2 separate regions of the Homo sapiens genome follow, and region 2 is linked to region 1. A link means that fine-mapping ties the variant in region 1 to the expression of a gene that starts in the linked region. Tissue or cell type: hypothalamus. Region 1 holds a variant in brackets; the other region holds the start of a gene. All regions are shown on one strand. Distances are from middle to middle.

What was found. PIP is the estimated chance that this variant, and not a neighbour inherited with it, causes the effect.
Region 2: it holds the start of PIP5K1A, and the variant in region 1 is fine-mapped to the expression of PIP5K1A in hypothalamus (GTEx, PIP above 0.99). The same link has a PIP of 0.9 or more in cerebellar hemisphere and whole blood.

Annotation. Positions count from the first base shown.
Region 1 is chr1:151,309,266-151,317,366 of GRCh38, reverse strand. PI4KB (phosphatidylinositol 4-kinase beta) reads left to right here. Exons shown (of 12, transcript NM_001369623.2): 2 at 858-1,794; 3 at 7,112-7,156. The coding sequence starts at 886. Among named protein-coding and RNA genes, the nearest start is that of PI4KB, 14 kb to the left of the region's middle. RefSeq lists an enhancer at 5,520-5,814. The variant C/T (reference allele first, on the strand shown) is at 4,020.
Region 2 is chr1:151,193,818-151,201,898 of GRCh38, reverse strand. PIP5K1A (phosphatidylinositol-4-phosphate 5-kinase type 1 alpha) reads right to left here and starts at 3,347. Exons shown (of 16, transcript NM_001135638.2): 1 at 2,818-3,347. The coding sequence starts at 2,902. LOC124904419 (a long non-coding RNA gene) reads left to right here and starts at 3,374. Exons shown (of 2, transcript XR_007066620.1): 1 at 3,374-3,448; 2 at 3,559-3,792. RefSeq lists enhancers at 2,870-2,949, 3,050-3,249.

The DNA of each region.
Region 1 (8,101 bases):
CCAGCCTGGGCAACAGAGCAAGACCCTGTCTCAAAAATAATAAGATTAAAAATTTAAAAATAAGCCAGGCATGGTGGTGTGCACCTGTGGTCCCAGCTACTTGGGAGGCTGAGGTGGGAGGCTTGCTTGAGCCCAGGAGGTCAAGGTTGCAATGAGCCCAGATTGTTCAACTGCACTTCAGCCTGGGTAACAGAGCAAGACCTTGTCTCAAAAAAAAAAAAAAAAAAGAATTTGTAAATGTAGGCCAGGTGCAGTGGCTCACGCCTGTAATCCCAGCACTTTGGGAGGCCGAGGTGGGTGGATCATGAGGTTGGGAGATGGAGACCATCCTGGCTAACATGGTGAAACCGTGTGTCTACTAAAAATACAAAACAAAATTAGCTGGACGTTGTGGTGGGCGCCTATAGTCCCAGCTACTTGGGAGGCTGAGGCAGGAGAATGGTGTGAACCCGGGAGGCGGAACTTACAGTGAGCTGAGATTGCGCCACTGCACTCCAGCCTGGGTGACAGAGCGAGACTCCGTCTCAACAACAACAACAACAACAACAACAAAAAGAATTTGTAAATCTATATAAATACAACATATACAAAACAACATTTCACATATATAAGCTAAGAACAGAGGCTAAGCTGAGTAACTACAGGAGGAATGACGAGTAATGTAATCAGAAGTGGAGGTAGTCAGGAAAGCTTCCTAGGATATGTCTTCTTATCTGATTTTGAAGGAGTCCAGGAAGACAAAAAGAGGAGGTGCCTGGGAAGGTGTCATAGCAAAGGGAAGATCTGAGGATGGCACCACTAACCAATGTGTGTATGTGTCTCCCTTTCTGTTCTTTTCTCCCTCCCTCTTCCTGTAGCTTGGAAGCTCGAAGTCTGGCTGTGGCCATGGGAGATACAGTAGTGGAGCCTGCCCCCTTGAAGCCAACTTCTGAGCCCACTTCTGGCCCACCAGGGAATAATGGGGGGTCCCTGCTAAGTGTCATCACGGAGGGGGTCGGGGAACTATCAGTGATTGACCCTGAGGTGGCCCAGAAGGCCTGCCAGGAGGTGTTGGAGAAAGTCAAGCTTTTGCATGGAGGCGTGGCAGTCTCTAGCAGAGGCACCCCACTGGAGTTGGTCAATGGGGATGGTGTGGACAGTGAGATCCGTTGCCTAGATGATCCACCTGCCCAGATCAGGGAGGAGGAAGATGAGATGGGGGCCGCTGTGGCCTCAGGCACAGCCAAAGGAGCAAGAAGACGGCGGCAGAACAACTCAGCTAAACAGTCTTGGCTGCTGAGGCTGTTTGAGTCAAAACTGTTTGACATCTCCATGGCCATTTCATACCTGTATAACTCCAAGGAGCCTGGAGTACAAGCCTACATTGGCAACCGGCTCTTCTGCTTTCGCAACGAGGACGTGGACTTCTATCTGCCCCAGTTGCTTAACATGTACATCCACATGGATGAGGACGTGGGTGATGCCATTAAGCCCTACATAGTCCACCGTTGCCGCCAGAGCATTAACTTTTCCCTCCAGTGTGCCCTGTTGCTTGGGGCCTATTCTTCAGACATGCACATTTCCACTCAACGACACTCCCGTGGGACCAAGCTACGGAAGCTGATCCTCTCAGATGAGCTAAAGCCAGCTCACAGGAAGAGGGAGCTGCCCTCCTTGAGCCCGGCCCCTGACACAGGGCTGTCTCCCTCCAAAAGGACTCACCAGCGCTCTAAGTCAGATGCCACTGCCAGCATAAGTCTCAGCAGCAACCTGAAACGAACAGCCAGCAACCCTAAAGTGGAGAATGAGGATGAGGTAAAATTCTGGGGAGGGCCAGAGACAAAAGGTGGTAGAGGGCTGCATGGAGACAGGATGCCTCCTATATACACACAGGGTTACGCTGTTCTTTCTGTCCTCCCTGTTTCATTTCACTGATAAAAGCATGGAATGTTAGAATGGAAAGGCCTTAGAATTCATGTATTTTGCCTGCCTTAGTTTACAAAGGAAGAACTCAGACCCAGAGAGATAAAGTGAGTTGCCTCAGGTCATATAGGTCATGGCAAGGCTGACGCTCCTGACTGTGTCCCAAATCATTTTTATTAAACTGCACTGGCCAGGCGCGGTGGCTCACGCTTGTAATCCCAGCACTTTGGGAGGCTGAGGCAGGCAGATCACGAGGTCAGGAGTTTGAGACCAGCCTGGCCAACATGGCAAAATCCCATCTCTACTAAAAATACAAAAATTAGCCAGGCGTGGTGGTGGGCGCGTGTAATCCCAGCTACTTGGGAGGCTGAGACAGGAGAATCACTTGAACCTGGGAGGCAGAGGTTGCAGTGACCAGAGATCGCGCCACTGCACTCCAGCTTGGGCGACAGAGTGAGACTCCGTCTCTAAATAAATAAATAAATAAATAAACTGCCATTCCATTAACATCTACTATGTTAATGAGAACTGTGGCAGAAGCCCTCCACACCCTGACCTGAGACTTGAGATAGCTACCAGAGCCTCTCAGAGCAGCATCTGTGGGAAAGGAAAAGGTACTATTGTCTTTCTGTGTGCTGGGGTAGGGGAGATGTTAGAACATCGGCTTCATTCTCCTGGCCACTCCTCCTCATAATCTAATCCCTTTTCACTACCCTCTGAAGATCCTACCTTTTGTTGACATAAGTGTAAGGTTTATTTCTTATCACTGAGGCATCTGGAGAATGCCTTCATTGCCTGCCTTTCCTTAGGGGGAAGAGTGCCTTGCTGGTATCTTTCCCATACCATTTGGGAGAAGCACAAAGGGAAGAGAAAGCACTCTTAGTATAGAGTAAATATAGTGCCTAGTCAAGGACCTGGAGGCTGGGAAGAAGAGGAAGCTACAGCAGCAGTTGGAGGTATAACTTAGGATATAGAGCAGGGAAGAGGTGGCCACATGAATAGGTTATACCCACTCTTCACTCCACATCTGGACAGATAGCAGGGAAAGCTGCCCAGTGGACTACCAAGTGTCAGTGACCTGGTGTCCCAGCCAGACAATGGTGCTCCAGTCCTCCCCTCTGACTCACCATTGGCCAGGCTCCCATCCTGGCTTCCAACCCAGCCTAGAAAAGAGGGAGAAAAAAAGGAGGAATTTGCACTTTTTGAAAAATGCGGATAGCTATGGTCTTGGCATCTGCCTCTGTGGGGCATATAACCCACCCACGTTTTTGATACAATGGGACTTCTTTCAAATAGAGGGAAGTCAGAGTGACTAGAGAAAAGGAAGAGGGAGGGAGACTATAGAGCCTGCTCTCTGGAAATTTGGAATTTTGTTAGGATAGTTTAATAATGGTAAAGCTAAAAGTGCTAACATTTATTCAGCACTTATGTGCCAGGCATCTTGCCAAGTACTTTACATTTAATCCTCACAACCATGCTGAGAGACAGGTATTATTTTGCCAGCAAGGAAACTGAGGCTTAGAAAGATTAGATGTTTTGCCCAAGGTCCCTCAACTAGTGAATGTCAGACCAGGACTCAAATCTCCAGCTGGTGCTCATAATCATTCAGCTGAACTACCTTGGTTATTTCTCAATATCTACTTCCCAAGGTCCCCAGCTGTCAGAAGCCATGTGGGGAAGAACGGCCCAGGCTATGGCCATCTGAGCTTCCACATCCATGCACAGGCAAAGCCAAAACTGTTGTCAGAACTAGAATGAACCGTTTTCATATCTGGTTGAGCTTGGCAGCAGAGCCCTGGGTCATGAAGAGAAGTTGCTGCAGAACAAGAAGAGTCATCCAGATTCTAGTGGAACATGAAGGGTTGGATAGCTGTCTCATCTTGGAGTCAAACCTGTAGCAGAGGGTGAGCAGCTGGAAGTGAATTCCTTGGTGCCTCTTGTCAGGCTTGGCTTTTCTCTTTATCCATTTTGTAGTGCTCATCTTAGGACCAGAAAAGCTGAGGCCTCAGGGCTTTTCTTACTCTGCTGATCCTTGGTCCCTCTTTCCTTACATCTAACTCCCACTCCAGGATAAGATTATGGATGGCACTGAGAGGCAGGTATTAGGTGAATACTTA[C/T]ATCATTTAGGGTGGGTTCTGTAGCTGCCGTTCTTCCAACCTGACTCCTTATCTTGGGTCACTAGATCCAGGAGAGGAAGGAGATACTATGTTCCCAGGCACTCCTGCGTTATCTGATACTGACAGAATGAAATACCTGAATTCATTATGGCTCCACAGAAAATGGGAGAGCAAGAAAGAGACAGAAACATGAATATCACTAGGTTTCTAAGCATTAGAGTCGTCAGCACAGGGGTCTCTCCCAGCCCTTTTCCTTCCATCCGTCCTTCCTTCCTTCCTTCCTTCCTTCCTTCCGCCCACCCGTCTGTCTGTCCGTCCGCCCTTTTTCTTGCAACAGGGTCTTGCTCTGTTGCCCAGGCTGGCGTGCAGTGGCACAGTCATAGCTCACTGTAGCCTTTAACTCCTGGGCTCAAGCAATCCTCCCATCTTAGCCTCCCAAGTACCTGGGGCTACAGCTATGTACCACCACACCTGGCTAATTTTTAAAAAATTTTTTTGTAAAGATGAGGTCGTGCTCTATTGCCCAAGCTAGTCTCAAACTCCTGGCTTCAAGTCATCCTCTCGCCTCAGCCTCCCAAGTCACTGGGATTACAGGCATGAGTGACTAGACCCAGCCCCTTTGGCATTTTGAGGATGCGTCTGTCAAGGCTTTTGTCCCCTAAATACCAAAGGAATTGGTTTTCCTTTTACTCATCCTTCTTCCCTTTCATGTAACATTCATTCACTCAACATGTAGTTATTGACTTTGTACAATGTCCAAAGCCGTGAGCTGTGCTGTGGAGGACGGGGGATAAAATGTTATCCTTCCCTCTAGGAACATGTGAAGTAATAATGAAAACCCCAGTATCTATGGAACTGTTTAGTTTGTGACTCTCTTGAAAAAGTTGTTTTCTGCCATAAGCAGGAAGTATACAGCTTACTAAAATGAGGCACATAATTATCTAAGACCTAAGCAGAGATACTCTAGGAGAATCTCTAGGTAGACCCTAACACTCTGCTCCCAGTCTCTTGCTTTTCTTTTAGGTTCTGAGTTTAATACTATGCTCCTACCACCAGTAGAGGGGCTCCCAAGGATGAGGTCGGGCCTCAAAGAAGAGGCTCAGGGGCAGCATGTACAGTTCTCTTCCTGCCCATGGTCTCCCTGCAGAGTTGTTCTCTGCTCAGCTCTCACAGTGTTCTCTTTCTTACTATGAGGAATCCTTTACACTCTCTCCCACAGTCAGAAGGCTTTGTGCTGATTTTTCACATTTTCCACCACTGCTCCTCAAAGCCTGCCGCTTCAAAGCCATTTTATCAGCCTAGTCGGGGAACTCTGCCCAGGCAGTTTGTCCTCCCATTTGTAACCAAATGGCAAATATTTTGGTATAGAATGGGGGAGCTAAAAGGAGAGAGTGATTTAGGTATCACACCCTCCCCGATATGATGACACTGTTAGTAGATTAGCTTTGTCTTTTCAGGACTGCAACCTTTGTACAGAGAAATCTGCCGCATGTCACACTGGAAGCCCCAGTAGGCCTTCTAGCTTGATATGGTGTGATGTCAGCTTCTTGCTTCATCTTTACTCCCCGGAGCTGACTCAGTGTGAGTGACTCAAGCCCAGGGAGTAGGAGAGGAGCAGGTCATGATATACCTCCCTTCCCCCAGGGCTGTCAATGAGTCAGACAGGACCTGTCTGTGACAGAATCAGCTGGAGCGTTGCTCAGGGAGCCAATATCTTGCCTGCTGTTCCTTCTCCAACCAGCTCATAGGTAGAAATAGAACCACTAATTCATAATAGACTCTGACATCCTCACTGCCTTAATTCTCCCACCACCTTCTACCCAAAATGGAAGAGTTGTTGCCTTAGGGGCATGTTTCCAAATGTGGCTTCTCCCTCAAAGTGCTCCAGTCCCCAGATTCTTCAAGGAAGGACCTGACTATAGGACCTCCAGCTAGAATAGAACTGAAACCATGGAATTGAGTTCAAGTGGATGCTTGAATCTACTCAGCAGATTTCAGAGTAGAAACTCACCACTGCCCTCCTGCCCTGGGAGCTCTTAGGACTTTGTCTTTTAAGTCTAACCTCCCCCACCCCGACCTCAACGTCCCCCACAACCTAGATTTGTGCACACGTGCTGCTCTGTTCCCTGCCCTGGTAGACCATGTTGGACAGAACCCAGGATGAGCCCTGTGCATGAGTGTTGCCTCAGAGCTGCTGAGTGAGAGTTTGACACCATCTCTTTCCCCTGTTTTTGCACACGGACACATATGACACAGCAATGGGGTGATGTTTAGATAAATCCTCTGGGCTGGGACTAGGACAGCTGCTATCCAGCTAGTCAGCTTTCTAGATGGATATAGCTAACTCCCCAACTTATATCAAAAATTGTAGTATATTGATTGTCATGTGGATAGCCTGATAGGAAGCCTAAGGAGGTTTGGTAGATAGGAGATTGATTTATCCTTCACTCCCATCAGCATCCAGCCCAGAGATTTTGGGCTTATTGGTCTAGGATGCTCTTTGTCACAGAGGTTCAAGGTTGGGATTCAGCTTCCCAGGGTGATAATGAGGCTAATTAGAGAAGAGGTATACCTGCCACTGAAAGTTTAGCTTTTCTTCCTCCCTGAGGTTTCCAAAAAGCTGGAGGAACATGGGGTTTCCAGTATGGGAGCCATGCAGCTTATTAAGTTCAGTCCTGTGGTGGTCCCCATGGAGAAGGATTTGGTTGAGAGCATGTGAGTGGGTAAAAAAAAAGAGCAGGGAAGCTTGGCAGTGCAGTTACTGCCCTAGGGACCCAGCTTTAGAGCTTTGGCCTAGAAGGAAGATCCATTCAGTTGAGAATAGAAGTGAATAAAGTGAAAAGCAGAGGCTGCTTTGTCTCTTCAGTCCTTCTGACCTTAAAGTCTGAGCTGCCCTTCCAGCATCTCCTACAAGTGGTCAAGCATCTGGGCAAGTAGCATTTCTGAGTTGACTTTCTTTTATTAAAGCAGAAAGGTAGAACTTCACTAGAGAAGCAGTTACGATCCAAGTTGGAGCTAAATTCTTTACCTTTGTCTCTCTCCCCTCCCTTCCCACCCCCTCCTTCTCCCTTTGCCCTCTGGCCCTTTCCCAGGAGCTCTCCTCCAGCACCGAGAGTATTGATAATTCATTCAGTTCCGTAAGTGGGGCCAGGCTGGGACGGGGTGGCAGGCTCCCCCAGTGGCCGCATTTCCTCTCCGTCCCCAGGTCTTCTGAGCCCCCAGGCCAAGGCTGGAGTTAAAATGCCCCTTTTCTTACTGGGAGATCAGCTCCTCCCTCCCAGACCTCCCAGATCTGCTGGAGTTCCCCTGACCTTTGCGGTGGAAATCCTGAGCCCAGGCTGAGATGAGCTCAGCTGATCCTTCTCTCAGAGACAGCTGGAGTACAGTGCTGCTCAGCCCCCAGCTCCTGAGTGTCTGGAGCAAACAGCTGGGAGAGAGGTAGAATTCACTCCTGGATTAGAGCCAAAAACTGCCTGGCAGAAACCCCCAGGATCCTGTTTCTCCCACCCAGAACCCTTTCCCCATGGCTTCTGCCGTCAGATTATCAAATATTTATTCATAATCTTCTAAATGCTAGGCCCTGTGCTGGTGAGCTGACTCCAAAAACAAATAGGACTTGGCCTGAAGGAAAGTTTTGCCTCTCCACAACTGGTTTTCTTTTTTAACTTCAACCACATTTTTTCCAGGTCTGAGTTCTTCCCTTTTCCCAGCTCACTGCCCAGGATGTTCCTTAATCCCCTCTCCTTTCTTGTTCCCTCTGGACTAACCCCTGACCCTTTGGTCCCACAGGGTCTTGGACCTTGTTGCTGGGCAAAGACGTGAGAGGAAATGCAGGACCTCTGGGAGTTTGGCTGATTTTTTTTATATTTTCTATTTGATTTGTCTATCAAATCAGTTTTCTCTGTTCTGTGCTAATCCCCTTTCAGTCATGATTCCTATCTCCTCTCATGTGGCAGAGCCTCTCTCTTGAGGCCTGGGGTCACATTTCTAACATGCTCACGTAACTTAGGGGCCCCTAACCCAAATGCTGATTTGAGAATGGGAAGGAATTCTGCCTTTTCTAATCTGAGATGATTATGAAT
Region 2 (8,081 bases), 120 kb after region 1:
GAAATTTAGCCACTTTTTGCCCCCTTTTTTTTGTTTTGAGACAGAGTCTTGCTCTGTCACCCAGACTGGAGTGCAGTGGTGTGATCTCGGCTCACTGCAACCTCTGCCTCCCGGGTTCAAGCAATTCTCCTGACTCAGCCTCCTAAGTAGCTGGGATTACAGGCCTGCGCCAACATGCCTGGCTAATTTTTTTGTATTTTTTAGTAGAGATGGGGTTTCACCATGTTGGCCAGGCTGGTCTCGAACTCCTGACCTTGCGATATGCCTGTAATCCCAGCATTTTTGGAGGCCGAAGTGGGCGGATTACTTGAGGTCAGGAGTTCAAGACTAGTCTGGCTGACATGATGAAACCCCATCACTACTAAAAACACAAAAAAATAAAATAGCCAGGCATGATGGCACATGCCTGTATTCCCAGCTACTTGGGAGACTGAGTCAGGAGACTCATTCGAAGCTGGGAGGCAGAGGTTGCAGTAAGCCAAGATGGCACCACTGCACTCCAGCCTGGGTGACAGAATGATACTCTGTCTCAAAAAAAAAACCACAAAAACATTTATACAATCTGTATTATTAACTGTTAGTGAGAGGATCTGACAGAAAACATAAAGACCTACAAAAATACCAAAGAGTACAAAGCAAACACCTGACTTAATAGTTGAGAAGTTTGTTTATGGACCATACACAACCCTTCTTCTTTCTGGGTTGGGGATTAGAGGGGAAGCAGGTTTCAAATTAAGGAGCTACTCTATTAAAAATAAAAACCCAGGTGGGGCACGGTGGCTCACGCCTATAATCCCAGCACTTTGGGAAGCCAAGGCGGGCGGATCACAGGGTCAGGAGATCGAGACCATCCTGGCTAACACGGTGAAACCCCGTCTCTACTAAAAATACAAAAAACAAAATTAGCCAGGCGTGGTGGTGGGCGCCTGTAGTCCCAGCTACTCGGGAGGCTGAGGCAAAAGAATGGCGTGAACCCGGGAGGCAGAGCTTGCAGTGAGCCGAGATGGCCCCACTGCACTCCAGCCTGGGCGACAGAGCGAGACTCCGTCTCAAAAATAAATAAATAAATAAATAAATAAATAAATACCCTGTCACTTTTACTTTATCCTATTTCATGCTTATAATGCAGCATGAGTTGTTCTGGTCCCCTAATACTTTTATAGGAAAGGTAAAAAATCCCCTCTCAACAAACTAAAAATAGAGATTTATTAAAAATAAATAAAACTGCAGCTTATTAAGAAGATATGTGTGACTAGATATTTCAGCATCTGAGCTGGAATGTGAAAGGTGGAAGGAACCCTATTCAGCAAATTCTAAACAGCAAAAACGCAACACCAGGCCTGAGGAAATACCAAAATCTCAAGCAAAGCATCCAACATCTGGCAGCGTCTATTCCAGTGTAGAAGCAGCAGTTACTGTGAAACACCAGACACTTCTGATGGAAGCGCTCAGTTTCTGACTCACCTCCCGCCCCCCCACCCGACACACATACACACACTTTCTCCCCTACACACAATCTACTGCTTTTCTTGTGAGCCTCCTCAGCCCTCCCTCAATCTTCATTCGTTTTTAACTATTAATACGCTGAGCTCTCTACATTAACCTGGCTCCATTCTCCAAATTCCAATCTCCTGATACAGCGTAAGCATTCTTCCAGTCCATTTTTCTATTATGCAATACTCCCCCACAACACTTACAGTCACCCCCCCACCCATCTTTCTTCTTCTCAGGCCTAATTTCCAAAACATCACTTCTCGCAGTCTCTACTGCAATTCAAGACTCCATTCCATCTTTCCCATCTGTTTTTAAGGTCTTTGACCTTAATTTCCTACATTCCTTAGACTCTCTTCAAAATTTCCATTCCTTCCCAAAGTTGGGCAGTTTAGAGTTGGGAATCACCAAAGGAATTAGTCTGAGAAAGTATGTATGTGTGTCTGTGTGCCTGTGCGGCCCTAAGGGTGGGGGTGCGAAGTGAGAAGGGGTGACACATTAGGGGGGAGTATCTGAGGGAAAAGATGGCTTCAACAACTCCCGCCCACCCAACAAAATTCACGATTCCCTACCTCTCCAGAAATCGAAAGCGTCCAATAACTTTTCGATATCTTTTAAGTCCCATGGCTTCTCTTCAACATTTTCATCCAATTAGCCCACAATCAACTTAGATTCCACCTGCCTCTCACACTAAGTAGTTCTCTCTACTTCTTAGGCCTCCATTTACTTTCTTAGTTTCTCTACTCCCTTCCGTTTCTCTTGTTTCCTACCGCAACTTCTTTTTTTTTTTTTTTGAGACAGGGTCTCACTCTCTCGCCCAGACTGGAGAGCAGTGGCCCAATCTCGGCTCACCGCAAGCTCTGCCTCCCAGGCTCAAGGGATTATCCTGCCTCAGCCTCCCAAGTAGCTGGGATTACAGATGCACGCCACTACTGTCCGGATAATTTTTGTATTTTTAGTAGGGACGAGATTTCTCTATGTTGGCCAGGCTCGTCTCGAACTTCTGACCTCAAATGATCCGCCCGCCAAGGCCTCCCAAAGTGCTGAGATTACAGGCGTGAGCCACCGCGCCGGGCCACCCTACCCCCACCTTCAATCTCCATCCGTCCTCCTCAAAGACAACCAAAGTTTTCGACAACTTCTTAATCAAACTTATCCTTTCCTCAAACTCCTGCCCGCTCATAAATCCCTATTTGAAAGCCCAGCTCGCGCCCACTTACCGGTAACACGTAGGACATTCCCAGCTACAGGTACCCTCTTAGGTCTCGCTCTTCCTCCCATCGCATATTCCTCACCAGCTCCCTACCCACGCCCTGCCGGGCTTACCTGAGGACAAGGTACAGGAAGGGACCGCGGGATCAAAGGATGAAAAACCGACCGAAGACGACGGCCCGGAGGAGGCCGACGCCATCTTAGCAGCCCCCTCCCCCTCAGCGGCCTGGCTCTCTTTCAATCCGGTTCTTCCTCTTCTCGGAATCGAATCTTCCCAACGTCTCTTTACAGAACCCGCGTTCTGTGGGCCACCTCCCCGCCCCCTCCGGGGCCTCCCTCAGACACGTCGAGCCGGCTCCTGGACCAGCTCAAGGCCACACCATTCGCCTGGCATGGGGAAGAACTCACGTCCCGCACCCCCTCCACAAGTTTAACCGCTTTCCACAGGGGATACTTTCCCCTTTCACAGAAGAGTAAGCTTAAGCTGGCTGCTGGGACCTTGCGCCCAGACCAAGCCACATCTGAAAAAAAAACGAGGCATGAAAAGTCCCAAAGGAGCGAACGCCCCTTCTCCGTCCTTCCTAACCACGGCCTGTTAATCGCCCAACCCGGCCGCTTCACTCCGGGTAGCCAAGCAAAAAATCCGAGCACTGCGCATGCGCCCGACCTTCTCGGGGCATCAGCCCACTCATTGGGGAGAAAAAAGGAGCAAAACCAATCGGGAGGCTGCTAATGGTCACGTGAGGTGGGTCCTCACGCCCTGACGAGTCCACGGGTGGAAGATGTGCGCGCGCGGGTTGGCCGACAGTCCCTACGGTGGCTCGGCAGGTCCTCTTAGGTTCAGTTCTTTGCTAGGACTGGGTCGAGTGATCTGAACTCGGGACAAGAGTCGGTCCGCCAAGTCCTCTGAAATTCCTAACCCAGGAAAGAACTCTCTGCGGGAGTACTGGTGTCAAGTCAGAGACGTTAAGGTGTCGAATATCACAAAACATTTAATACCACCAAGAACTCTTCTTAGTCTTTTTCCTGTTTTACTACTCTTGTTTACTATTTGATTAAACGTGCGTGCATGTCTTACCTTCCTCGGAATGGCATTCGAAATAGATCTGTGTTTTGTTTGCCTCAAGCACAAAGTTAGGCACTGCACAGTGACGGAGTTCAGTAAATATTTGATGCATGAATCAGTGAAGACCTGTCAAAAAAGGGCACGGGAGGCTATCAGGGACTTATCACAACCTTCCCGCGACCCAACCCCTTTAGCCTCCAACTGTCAATTATCTGTGCTCCAAAGGGCATGGAGATACACAGAAAAATTTCTCCCATTGTAGTCTTCGTAGTAACTGCTCGTTTTTAACAAAGTACCCCGTAGGCTATGAACCCTGGTGGGAAGACCAGTCTCTCTGAGCAGACTGTAAAACTTCTGGGGAGCAAGGACTGTGTTTGGTTCACTCTTGTATCTCCAGCTCCTCCAGTGACTTCGTACATAGTAGGGGCTCCATAATTATCTGTGGAATGAATAAATAAAGAGGAATGGTAAAACATTCGGGGTAAGAGTCGGTCAGATAGATCCTCTCAAACTCATGGCCCATGAAATAACTCCATTAAAACAGGTTTTGTGGCCGGGCGCGGTGGCTCACGCCTGTAATCCCAGCACTCTGGGAGGCCGAGGCGGGTGGATCACGAGGCCAGGAGATCGAGACCATCCTGGCTAACACGGTGAAACCCCGTCTCTACTAAAAATACAAAAAATTAGCCGGGCGTGGTGGCGGGCGCCTGTAGTCCCAGGCTACTCGGGAGCCTGGGGCAGGAGAATGGCATGAACCTGGGAGGCGGAGCTTGCAGTGAGCGGAGATCGCGCCACTGCACTCTAGCCTGGACGACAGAGCGAAACTGTCTCAAAACAAAACAAAACAAACAAACAAAAAAAACAGGTTTTGTAACCCCCAGAATGACCTGGTTATCCTCTTTCCAGATGTCTTGTGGGTCCTCATAAAGTAACCTAGGACCCGAACATCCATAGAATATCCCCATGCAGGCCGGGCGCCGTGGCTCACGCCTGAAATTCCAGCACTTTGGGAGGCCGAGGTAGGTGGATCATCTGAGCTCAGGAGTACGAGACAAGCCTGGCCAACATAGTGAAACCGCGTCTCTACTAAAAATACAAAAAATTAGCTGGGCGTGGTGGCGGGTGCCTGTAATCCCTGCTACTCGGGAGGCTGAGGCAGGAGAATCGCTTGAACCCAGGAGGCAGAGGTTGCAGTGAGCCAAGATCGCGCCATTGCACTCCAGCCTGGGCAACGAGAGCGAAACTCAGTCTCAAAAAAAAAAAAAAAAAGGCCGGGCGCAGTGGCTCACGCCTGTAAGCCCAGCACTTTGGGAGGCCGAGGCGGGCGGATCACCTGAGGTCGGGAGTTCAAGACCAGCCTGACCAACATGGAGAAACGCCGTCTCTACTAAAAATACAAAATTACCCAGGCGTAGTGGAGCATTCCTGTAATCCCAGCTACTCGCTACGCCGGAGGCTGAGGCAGGAGAATTGATTGAACCTGGGAGGCAGACGTTTCGGTGAGCCGAGATGGCGCCTTTGCACTCCAGCCTGGGCAACAAGAGCGAAACTCCAACTCAAAAAAAAAAAAAAAAAAAAATCCCCATGCATTTACTGCAGCCTTCTACTCCTCCCTTATGAAGATCTAAGATAATTGTTTCCCTGCTGCCACCTGCTGGATTATTCGTCTTCCTTTGGGCACCGAAAGTAGACAAAATCTTGTTTGTAATTCCACAGCAGTGGAATTTTGTTGTGTTGAAGTATTTTATAATTCCCTGTACCTATACCCTCCACTCAACTAAACAGGACAGGAACTAGTGAGGGGCACACTGAGCACAGGATTTGGCTCATAGGTATTCAATAAATAAATATTTGTTGAATAAATTATCCTTGTTTTCCGAAAAGGCATAGGATTGCTACCATTTCCTGAGTTACTTTAGAAATCGGATAGTGTAGCCGGACGCGGTGGCTCACGCCTGTAATCCCAGCACTTTGGGAGGCCGAGGCGGGCGGATCACGAGGTCAGGAGATCGAGACCATCCTGGCTAACACAGTGAAACCCCGTCTTTACTAAAAATACAAAAAATTAGCCGGGTGAGTTGGCCGGCGCCTGTAGTAGCCCCAGCTACTCGGGAGGCTGAGGCAGGAGAATGGCATGAACCTGGGAGGCGGAGCTTGCACTGAGCCGAGATCGTGCCACTGCACTGCAGCCTGGGCGACAGAGCGAGACTCCGTCTCAAAAAAAAAAAAAAAAAAAAAAAAAAAATCGGCTGGTGTTGATGTAAAGCTGTTTCTGATTTTAAAATTGGAAACAGACTAATAAATCCCAGAATGACCAACGCAGTCAAACAGAGGAATCTTCTCCCTGTGAGCTAATCTGTGAATTCCATTTTATTTTATTTTTGAGACAGAGTCTGGCTCTGTCACCCAGGCTGGAGTGCAGTGGCGCTTGGCTTACTGCAACCTCCACCTCCCGGGTTCAAGCGATTCTCCTGCCTCAGCCTCCCGAGTAGCTGGGACTACAGGCATGCACCACCACGCCCAGCTAATTTTTTATATTTTTAATTTTTATTTTCATCAAGTACTATTTTTATTTTTAATTTCACCAACTCCCACTCAGTCCCTGGGGCGCCCCCACTCCCACTCAGTACCTGGGGTGTCCTCTGAGTCATGGAACCACTCCTCCCCGGTAACATTCCTGGCATAGTAGAACTGTGGTGACGTGGCAGGGTGTGGAAACAGGGGCAGAGCAGGACATGTTGGCTTAGTGCCCCAAGGAAACAGAAAAGGGAGTTCACCAATACATACTTTGGGAAAGGGGGTACAATCTGATGACCTCAAAGTAGGGCCACAGGTACAGACTTCAGTACATGTGAGTACACACCCACACCTTTATTAAAGTGTCATTCATATCTTAGAACAGTTTCTTTATTTTATTTATTTATTTATTTTATTATTGTTTTTTTTTTGAGACAGAGTCTCCCTCTGTCGCCCAGGCTAGAGTGCAGTGGCGCGATCTTGGCTCGCTGCAACTTCCGCCTCCCGGGTTCAAGCGATTCTCCTGCATCAGCCTCCCAAGTAGCTGGGATTACAGGCACAAACCACCACGTCCGGCTAATTTTTTGTATCTTTAGTAGAGACAGGGTTTCACTGTGTTAGCCAGGATGGTCTCGATCTCTTGACCTCGTGATCTGCCTGCCTCGGCCTCCCTAAGTGCTGGGATTACAGGTATGAGCTACTGCGCCCGGCCAGAAAAGTTTCTAAGATTAGAATGAAGTGATGGGGACTGGCAAGAGCAAGGAAAGGATTCTACAATAAGAGGATGGGCTATTTATTCAATTAATCATTCATTAATTAATTCACTCAATTAACATTATTTAGCCCAAGCTACGTCCCAGGCACTATTAGAGTTCCTGGAATACACAGATGACCATTAAGCCCATCATCAGGCAGGATGGCTCACTCCTGTAATCCCAACACTTTGGGAGCTGAGGCAGGCAGATTGCTTGAGCCCAGGGGTTCAAGACTAGCCTGGGCAACATGGCAAAAATCCTATCTCTACAAAAAATACAAAAATTCGCTGAGCGTGGTGGTGCGCACCTGTAGTCACAGCTACTAAGGAAACTGAGATGGGTGGATCACTTGAGCCCAGGAGGTCAAGGCTGCAGTAAGCTAAAATTGCACCACTACTCTCCAGCCTGGGCGACAGAGCAAAACCATGTCTCCAAAACAATTTTTTTTAATTAAAAAAAGGAAAAGATTAAGCCCCTGCCCTCAAAAAGATCACAGACTAATGAGGGGAACAGACATGTGAATCATTAGAATACAATGTAATAGGTGCCATCATAAAGTTTGTGTAAGTGCTATGGTTTGATAACCATATTTTCAGAATAAAAAATGAGAACAGTCTTTACAACAGACAATATTTGAGATTGGAACTATTCCAGAGACTACAGAAGACATCATCTCCATAGTTATATGAATTGTGCCTGGAAAGAGAGGAATGGGTGTTCAGGAAGACTCCACTCTCCCATAAAATTAGAAAAGAAAGGAAAGGGATTCTAAGGAGAAAGAAAGGCATAGAGGCATGACAGAGAATTGGGTGTTAGGGGAGAGATGCTGGAGTAGTGATGTCGCAGGAGGTGTGACTAGAAGGACAGGGAGAGGCTAAATTATGAAGGATCTGAATACTGAATGCCATGTAGTAGTTACCACCTACTACACATTTACTATGCACTTACTAAACACTGTGCTAAGCAGTTGACAAGAATTATCTCTCTCTGTCTTTTTTTTTTTTTTTTTTTTTTTTTGAGACAGAATGTGGCTCTGTCGC